Linked DNA regions of Homo sapiens. The protein of the gene in region 1 purifies or fractionates together with the protein of each later gene. This does not show direct contact. Each region holds a gene or a part of one and is shown on either strand. Other genes may lie near its edges.

Region 1 (5,908 bases):
GCAGTGAGCTGAGATCACGCCACTGCACTCCATCCTGGGTGACAGAGTGAGACTCCGTCTCAAAAAAAAAAAAAAAAGGAACTGATTATAGTTTGGGTCCTTTCTCATTTCTCTCTTACCGGTAATGCTCGTCTTTGTCACGCTTGTAGAACCGCAAAAAGAGCAAGTGGACGGGCAGCCCCACAAGCCGCCACCGGGCTTGCAGGGTCCAGTTCTCAGGGTGGCGGGTCAGCTGTAAAACCTCCAAACGAAGGTGTGCAAAATAATTCCAGGCCAGGAAACGGCAGAGGGTCAGTGAAAGAATGTACCATGTCCGGCCCCTGTGAAGAAGGGATGGGAAAGAAATCTCATGATGGCAGAATTAGAAAACCAAACTGGCTTCTAAGGAATGGGGAACAGCTGTGAGAAGCAGTCTAGGAACTTCTCTGGGAAGTGAAAAGGGTCATGTATATACCTTTGGGTGCTTTTCCTCCCCAGTGCCCTACCTGTGCCCCAATTCTCACTTGGTACGTATGTTGAGGATCTCATTGATGAATTCCACATCCAAGGAATACAGACTGTAGTCGTGGGACTGAAGGAAGAGCTTGGGAAGCTAGGTGGAAGAAGATGGCATCAACCCAGTGGGAAAGAAAAGATAATCCTATTTTTCAGTTTTCTAATTTTTTTTTTTTTTTGAGACGGAGTCTAGCTCTGTCGCCCAGGCTGGAGTACAGAGGTACAATCTCAGCTCACTGCAACCTCCGCCTCCTAGGTTCAAGCGATTCTCCTGCCTCAGCCTCCCGAGTAGCTGGGATTACAGGCTTGAGATGGAGTCTAGCTCTGTCGCCCAGGCTGGAGTGCAGAGGTACAATCTCGGCTCACTGCAACCTCCGCCTCCCAGGTTCAAGCGATTCTCCTGCCTCAGCCTCCCGAGTAGCTGGGATTACAGGCACCCACCACCATGCCCAGCTAATTTTTGTATTTTTAGTAGAGACGGGGTTTCACTGTGTTGGCCAGGCTGGTCTTGAACTCCTGACCTTGTGATCCGCCTGCCTCGGCCTCCCAAAGTGCTAGGATTATAAGCGTGAGCCATGTGCCAGGCCCAGTTTTCTATTTTTAAGGCCTCCTTACTCCCATCTTGGAGTGAAAGATCTCATCCCATGATTAACCTCCCTTAACCCAAAATGAGGAACATCATTTTCTTTCTTTTTTTTTTTTTTGAGACGGAGTCTCGCTCTGTTGCCTAGGCTGGAGTACAATGGAGATATCTCCTTTCACTGCGCCTCCTGGGTTCAAGCGATTCTCCTGCCTCAGCCTCCTGAGTAGCTGGGATTATAGGCGTCTGCCACCATGCCTGGCTGATTTTTGTGTTTTTAGTAGAGATGGGGTTTCACCATGTTGGCCAGGCTGGTCTTGAACTCCTGACCTCAGGTGATCCACCTGCCTAAGCCTCCCAAAGTGCTGGGATTACAGCACTTTGAGCCACCGTGCCTGGCTGGAACATCATTTTCTCAGGAAAATGTTTATAATATATTTCTATGCCTGCCTCATGGTTCCAAAAAAGAATCCAGTTGACTATCCCTGTACGTCCAAGGATTACCCACATCCTTCCCACTGTAGACGAAGGCCACTTTTGCACTGACTTACCTCTTGTCTCAGTCTCTCATACATGACAGACAGATGTTCCTCCATACTAGGATCTCCTGACGGGGTGGCAGGGGAAGGGTGGGCAGTTCCAGGGACTTGGAAAGGTATCCAAGCCCCAGGATAGGGGCAGGGAGGTCCCTCAAAAAGGCTTCTAAGCCCATCCAGGCAGCCGCTATGCAACTCAGGTCCTGGTCCCTCCTCCCCCTTTCCTGGAGGGAGAACCACCCATGCTGAGCTGAGGGCCTGGATCTGAGGGAGAGGTAGTGGGGGAACCTGGGGAAGACGCTGGGTGGGAAGGCGTGGGGGCAGGGGAGACCAGAATAGAGGAGAAGATGGGGAAGTGGTTGTCGTGGAGTGGGGCCAAAGGGGTGGGAATGGTAGAGTCCCTGGATAAAGCTGGTCCTAAGGAGAAAGAACAGAAGGGAGAAAGATAAGAATCCACTTGTCTAACACCCCTTGATCCCCTGGATGCTCAACAGGCTTCCAATACCTATTCCTCCTGACAGAATGGATGGAATTACTATAGGAAAAAAGGGATGGATTCATCTCCATCTCTACTGAAAACAGGAGGAAACCATTTTATTTTATTATTTATTTTGAGATGGAGTCTCGCTCTGTTGCCAGGCTGGAGTGCAGTAGCACGATCTCAGCTCACTGCAACCTCCGCCTCCCGGGTTCAAGTGATTTTCCTGCCTCAGCCTCCTGAGTAGCTGGGACTACAGGCGCGCGCCACCATGCCCAGCTAGTTTTTGTATTTTTAGTAGAGACAGGATTTCACCATGTTAGCCAGGATGGTTTTCATCTCTTGACCTCGTGATCCACCCGCCTCTGCCTCCTAAAGTGCTGGGATTACAGGCGTGGGCCACCGCGCCCAGCCGAGCAAACTGTTTTATGTGACATAAATACCGGCACCTCCCAAAACCTAGCAGACATTTTACTTTTTTTTCTTTTTTTGAGACGAAGTCTCACCGTCGCCCAGGCTGGAGTGCATTGGCGCGAACTCGGGTCACTGCAACCGCCGCCTCCTGGGTTCAAGCCATTCTCCTGCCTCAGCCTCCCGAGTAGCTGGGATTACAGGCACCCTTCACCACGCCCGGCTAATTTTTGTATTTTTAGTTACAGATGGGGTTTCACCATGTTGGCCAGGCTGTTCTCGAACTCCTGACCTCAGGTAATCCGCCCACCTCGGCCTCCCAAAGTGCTGGGATTACAGGCGTGAGCCACCGTGCCCGGCCCAGTGTTGGAATCTTAAAGAAATGTGGCCGGGCGCGGTGGCTCACGCCTGTAATCCCAGCACTTTGGGAAGCCGAGGCGGGCGGATCACGAGGTCTAGGAGTTCGAGACCAGCCTGGCCAATATGGTGACACCCCATCTCTACTAAAGATACAAAACAATTAGCCGGGTGTGGTGGCGGGAGCCTGTAGTCCCAGCTACTCGGGAGGCTGAGGAAGGAGAATTGCTTGAACCCAGGAGACGGAGATTGCAGTGAGCCGAGATGGTGCCAATGCACTTCAGCCTGGGTGACGGAGCAAGACTCCATTTCAAAAAAAAAAAAAAAAAGATTCCAACACTGGGGGCAGTTTCACCTCTCTTATCGCAAGAATCATGTAATACATACTTGATGAGTTAACGAATAACAGGTTTTATTGTACTGTGGATTAAATGCTGTGGCCTGTACATCTCCATGATTAAGTGTGCGAGGCAAATGTACAGAGAAAAAAGAATATCCAGCTGAAGCTAGGAATCTGAATTCTATCATGTAACTTTAGGCATTCTCATTCCCTATGCCTCCGCTTCCTACAAATGTCCTATAAATGAGAACAATAAAGCCTCACTGGGTTATGAGGCCTATATGAAATAATGAATGTAAACAAAACGTAGCGACCTAGAAAGCAGTACATAAATGGAAGCTATTATCATTTCGGGCCCCTCTAATGACAGACACAACCTCAGGAGACAGTTAAAGGCTGGCCTTCACTCTCCTGGGTTTACCGACGTTGAAACTGCAAGGGGAGGTCACCCAAAGTTAGGCCTCACCCGAGTCCCTCCGCTCCCAAGGAACCCCCCAGGGGATCGTCTCACTGCAGGGAAGGCGGGCGGACCGCTCGGGTACCTCGGTCCCCGATGGTGTCCTAGAGGCGCCGTCTCTGCTGGGGGCGTGGCCATCTTGCCAGCCCGGGCGCAGGGGCCCGAACCGGGTGCACACTGGCCGGCCTTCCTGCCAGGACCGCTCTCCGAGTGCAAGACGGGCGGGCTGCTGAGGGCGCCCCGCGGGTCTGGTCTGGGCCGGGGAACTCCGGGACGGCGCCGCAGCAGGGCTACGAATCTCTCGGCCCCTGCCCTTCAAATCACCTCTAGGCACAGGTAACCGCGGAGAGTCGGGCGCAACGCAGACGCGCCCCGCTGCCTGGCCTTGACCCCGCCTGACCGCCCTCAAACCTGGGAGGACCGACGTCCTTGCGCGACAGGCCCGGCAGCGCCTCCCTCCCGCTCCCGCGACCCCTAGCCTGTCCACGCGCTGCAGGGCACAGGTGGGAAGGGGCGGCGGGTGTCTCTGCGCCTGCGCGGAACCCAGCGCGCGCTCCGCCCCACGCACCGGCTTTGAGGAGGGTCTCTCCCCGCCCCCTCTCCTCCCTCCCTCTTCTCCTCCGCTCACCTGGGGTCGAGCCTGGTAGGCGCGCAGGCAAGGGCCGAGACGCCGGGCCGCACCCCGGCTGGGCTGGTACATGATCTTCCGGGAGTGGAGAAGGAGCCTCCTGAGTCCGACCTCCGGCCTCCTCACAGGGGTGAGCGCGCCCCAGAGCCGGCTTCGTGAAGGGGAAAGGAGGCCGGGGCGGGGGGGTAGGGGGGGAAGGGGCTGAGGGAGGGAAACGGAGATGTCCCGCGCTTGCGCACTGCAGGCTCGAGGGAAGCGGCTGAAGCGCTCTGTCGGCTGTAAGCGCGCCTGCGCCCGCGGGCTCGGAGACTGCCTGAGTGCGCTTGCGCAAGTTACAGCCTCCCCCGCCCCCCCAAGCGCTGTATTCACAGCTGAGGCCTTTGAGCAAAAAGCTGAGCAAAAACAGGGCTGAAGGCTGAATGGGTGCAACGACAGTGAGGGGTGAGGCGGCTGAAATAATGAGTCAAATTTTTCAACAGCTCTTGTGATAAAAATAAATACTTTTATTGGTCTGGTTAAAAGATACAAATGACTTGAATCTGATAAGCCTGCTGAATGAATGAATGAATGAATGTATCCATCTATTATGAGGGTTGGGCTTTGGCTCTTTCCTGTAGTGAGGGAGAAATAATACTTTGAAGATGTTTGACGGGGCTGCGGTCACCAAGGCCTGGTGCTGCGACGTTCCTGCAGGTTTCGAATGAACCTGGCGTTGAGTATGTCCCCACCCACTGTCCAGGACTGGGCTGGCGGGGCCGGGGCCTGTGGAGGAGCTGTGTGCATGGGCTTCTCCCCAGACCCATCCTGTGACAAGGCCTGCTCCTCACTGGCAGACCTGGTAGGTGGGGAGATGGAGAGTGGGTTATAGGAATACTAAAGAGGAAATTAAGATTACAGACTCTTCAAGGTCTCGGGCCAGGTTTTAATGTAGGACACATGATGGGTATGAAGCTGGAACCATTAGTGCTATGTCCAAATTTAAAACCTCTCAGAGAATCCGTATTCCAAAGGGAAGTACCAGAGTTGAACCTGTGGGGGAAAGGGGCTTGCAGGATGTAAGGTAGAAGGAATTGTGGGAGGAGCTGGTGTCCAGTTCATACAATAAGATTTAAGAGTAGGAAGTGACTGAGAATGATGTTAGGAAGGGAGTCAGATGGTGGTGGGAGGCTGTTAGGGGAGGGGTTTAGACCTCACCTATTCTTTGTTTCCTGTTCTCCCTGCTTGGAGTCTTGGTTGCCTGTGGAAATATCAGGCATGTGAATGGGAAGGCAGGAGTAGACAGTGAATGTGGCCTACTTGATTTGAGGGTAGGGAGGAGTGAATACTTACCTGTATTGGGGGATGAGGAATTCACCCCCCCATGGCGGCTGTAGCAGCAGCTTTGGGCTACCAGACCTGGGGGAGTCCCCCTGTAGAAGAAATGGGAGATGATGGGGAGGAGGCTACTGGATGAAAGATGGGTGGGTATGGAGGAATCAGAGGAGAGGAGTAAAAGGAATAGCACAGGAACAAAGAGAAGGGGGTAATTATCATTCCTAACAGGTTTTAATCAAAGCTGTGCCCCAGAAAAGGGCGGGGGAAGTTCATTTTATACCCAAGATTTTCTGGAGTGCTTCTGATTTATTG
Region 2 (3,899 bases), on another chromosome or scaffold:
ATAGGTTTTGGGCTTGGGAAGCTGGGCATATTTTTGGCCTTTTCACAGATGGGGAAATAGGAGTCTTGGGGGAAGAAGATGATGGAGATACTTTTGAATATGTTGAGTTTGAGATGCGGGTAAGACATCCAAATGGAGATGGGCAGAAAACAATTGGATAGACAGTTCTGGAGGTGAGGAGAAAGTTCTGGTTGGAAATGGAGATTTAGAGAGTTATGTGGCTAATAGTTAAAGCTTGGATTGTTTGGATGAGGGCATCCAGGGAAAATGCACTGAAGAACATAGCAGAGAGCCAAAGACGGAGTTTTGGGGTATATGAAACCTGACAAAGAGTCTCTGTGAGTAAGAGAAAAACCAGGTGAGTTTGGTATTTCAGCATTGTCAGATGAAGAGAGATAAAATGTGATAAGAATTCACTGAATTTGGTAATTGAAATGAGCACATAGTATATGAGGACTAAATCTCAGTAATTTGTACCATCCATGTCAGTAAATGGAACCTCCATACATCTAATTGTGCAGGCCAGAAACCTAGGGTCCATCCCTGATTCTTCCCTGTCCTTCACATCCAATCAGTTCTCCCATCTTTAAAATGCATCTGGAATTGATGTTTTTTCTACCTCCACTCCTAGCCTTTTAGTCAAAGTCACCACCATTTCTTGCCTATATTACTGTGATAGCCTCCCAGCTGCTCTTCCTCTTTTTCCCCCTCTGGAGTCTTGCTCTGTCTCGCCCAGGCTGGAATGCAGTGGCACAATCTCGGCTTACTGCAACCTCCATCTCCCAGATTCAAGTGATTCTTCTTGTGCCTCAGCATCCCAAGTAGCTGGGACTACAGGCATGCACCACCATGCCTGGCTAATTTTTGATTTTTCTATTTATTTTTAAATTTATTTTATTTATTTATTTTTTGGGGGATGGAGTCTCGCACTGTTGCCCAGGCTGGAGTGCAGTAGCGTGATCTCGGCTCACCACAACCTCCACCTCCCTGGTTCAAGCGATTCTCCTGCCTTAGCCTCCCGAGTAGCTGGGACTACAGGCGCATGCCACCATGCCCAGCTAATTTTTGTATTTTTTAGTAGAAACTGGGTTTCACTATGTTGGCCAGGCTGGTCTCGAACTCCTGACCTGGTGATCCACCCGCCTTGGCCTCCCAAAGTGCTGGGATTACAGGCGTGAGCCACCACATCTGGCTGATTTTTTTATTTTTAGTAGAGACAGGGTTTCACCATGTTTGCCAGGTCTGGAACTCCTGACCTCAAGTGACCGGCCTGCCTCAGCCTCCCAAAGTGCTGGGATTACAGGCATGAGCCACCACGCCCAGTACTCATCTTGGTTCGTTTTAATCCATTCTTCACAAAACTGCAAGAATGATTTTGTTAAAATGCAAATCAGATCATGTTGCCTTCTTTTTTAAAATCCTTAATGGCTTCCCATTGCACTTGGAATGAAATCTAAACTTCCCATGGCCTGAAAAGCTCTTTGTGATCTGGTTTCTGCTTACCTCTATGACCTCAACTTGTACCACCCACCACCCCTTTCTCACTATATTCAAGCCACACTGCCATCTTTCTGCTCTGTGACACTCATTCCCACCTCCTAGCCTTTGAACTAGCTGTTCTGATGTTGCCCAGGGCTGGCTCCTTTCCATCACAGAGGCTCTAAGTTTCACATCTTTAGAGAGGCCTCTCTGACCACCTTATTCTAGGGTACTTACCTGTTACTATTTGCTGGTTTGCCGTTTACTTCCTTATTGTAATTTCTATATGGTTTTTCTTCTCTTTTTTTTCCTCCATCAGAATCTGGGACAGACAAATCATCTGTCTTGTTTATAGAAGTATTCCTAGTGCTTAACACAGTGGATATGGTAGATGCTAAAAATATTTGTTAAATGGCAGTGAGGCATAGGCATGTCTTGACAACAGTTTGTTAGGAGTTTGCAATATGTAGTTATGATTTAGCATGGTATAGTAGGTCCTCAATATGTGTTTATGCAAGAAGAATATTTTTCCAAAGTGTGATTTCATGCACTGCTTATTTCTCATTATCAGTTCCCTTGGCCTTTTACTTATTTACTAGTCAGGATAGTAAAATAGAAACTTAGTCTTATAAAATATGTATATTTTTTACTCCAACTCCAGGATATCCACTAGGCTTAGATGCTGCCAAAAGAAAAAGATAAATGTTAAGTGAAAGACAGCTATGTGCAAAAGAACATAAAATGCAAGTTTGTGTTTTCATTAAGTCTAATTTATTTACTTATTCAACGTAAATGAACACCTACTGGGCACAAGGCACTGTTTATGTATGGGATGCAGCAGGGAGCCTAGATGCTAGTGAGAAGTGACAGACAGGAAACATCTACTCAAATAAATAATACCAAAGGACAGATTAAATTCCCAACAATCACAACTTTTAAGAAAATATGATTGATCTAATATGAAAATTTGCAGCAAATTTTTGAAAAATGGAACATCTTATTTGTATTATAAAATATTTTTAAAACTTATAAGGGATATGTTATAGGGTTTCTTTAAAGATTGGTCTTTCCCACTGAGTTTTAAAAACATGATTTAATTGGGAAAAACATAGCTTTTCAGAAATATTGCTGTTTCCCCTCTATCCAGTAGATGCTGGTCTACCTACTAAATATTTCTCACCATCCACTTTGCATCCACACTGGAGCTAATATAGTACAGCCACAGTCATGTCTCTACTGGATGATTAGAGCCTTCTAACTGGAGCCTGACTGTTTTTGAGTTATATCTTTTATCTGAGAATTTGAATTATTTGTGTAAGACATACATCTCATGTGTACCTCAACCTTGGAAAGATTTTTAATCTTGCTCTCTAAGACCACAGATGTCATTTTAAAAGGGAGAGTAAAATGGTAAGCTTTGGCATATAATTTATTATAGATTAGTCTTTAGCCCCATCGAAGACGGTATAATTATTAGAAGAACTAGAAGCATCTCCTGAGGTCTCAAGTGTCATATGGCTCTGAGACTTGACCCCTAAGGCTGGTGATATTAAGCCTTCATGTATCTTGAATGATATTCCTTTTTTCCTTTTCCACTCTTACTTTGCTAAGTCGTTTGACATTAGCAGTGCCCTAGAGTCCAGACAAAAGTCTTTGGAATTTTTGCTGCCGTAAGAAAGCAGAGGTCAGTTGGCTCCGTTCACCATAGTGCATAAATTGAGAAATTGTGGTTGTCTCCTGGGATCTTTATATCTTTGCCTTTAAACCCCTTTGTTTATTCATTATCTTTTTTCTTTCTTTTCCTTTTTTTTTTTTTTGAGACAGAGTCTCGTTTTGTCGCCCAGGCTGGAATGCAGTGGTGCAACCTCGGCTCACAGCAACCTCTGTCTCCCAGGTTCAGTGATTCTCCTGCCTCAGCCTCCCAAGTAACTGGGATTACAGGCATAAGCCACCACGCCCAACTAATTTTTTTTTTTTTTTTTTTTCTGAGGCAGAGTTTCACTCCTGTTGCCCAGGCTGGAGTGCAGTCGCGCCATCTCGGCTCATTGCAGCCTCTTCCTCCCACGTTCAAGCGATTCTTCTGCCTCAGCCTGCCGAGTAGCTGGGATTACAGGTGCCTGCCACCACGCCTGGCTAATTTTTTTGTATTTTTAGTAGTGATGGAATTTTGCCATGTCGGGCAGGCTGGTCTCCAACTCCTGACCTCAGGTGATCCACCCAAAGTGCTGGGATTACAGGCGTGAGCCACCGTGCCCTGCCCAAATTTTTTTTCTTTTTTTTCTTTCTTTCTTTCTTTTTTTTTTTTTTTTTGTATTTTTAGTAGAGATGGGGTTTCACCATATTGGCCAGGCTGGTCTCGAACTCCTGACCTCAGGTGATCCACCCGCCTCGGCCTCCCAAAATGCTAGGATTATAGGCAT

The links. Proteins that work in one complex are often made in the same cells at the same time.
Region 2: the proteins of C6orf136 (region 1) and MPZL1 purify together in Homo sapiens (affinity purification with mass spectrometry; one large-scale study listed by BioGRID and IntAct). This does not show direct contact.

What each region holds. Positions count from the first base shown.
Region 1 is NC_000006.12:30,645,678-30,651,585, reverse strand, and holds the start of C6orf136 (uncharacterized protein C6orf136), read right to left. Parts: upstream 4,454-5,908; 5' UTR 4,355-4,453; coding exon 3,740-4,354; intron 2,029-3,739; coding exon 1,627-2,028; intron 593-1,626; coding exon 504-592; coding exon of another isoform or gene 500-503; exon of another isoform or gene 486-499; intron 321-485; coding exon 120-320; intron 1-119. Other genes in the region: ATAT1 (alpha-tubulin N-acetyltransferase 1), read right to left, coding at 4,943-5,117, 5,477-5,519, 5,612-5,691.
Region 2 is NC_000001.11:167,724,591-167,728,489, forward strand, and holds part of MPZL1 (myelin protein zero-like protein 1 isoform a precursor), read left to right. Parts: intron 1-3,899. UniProt on the Homo sapiens protein: Cell surface receptor, which is involved in signal transduction processes. Recruits PTPN11/SHP-2 to the cell membrane and is a putative substrate of PTPN11/SHP-2.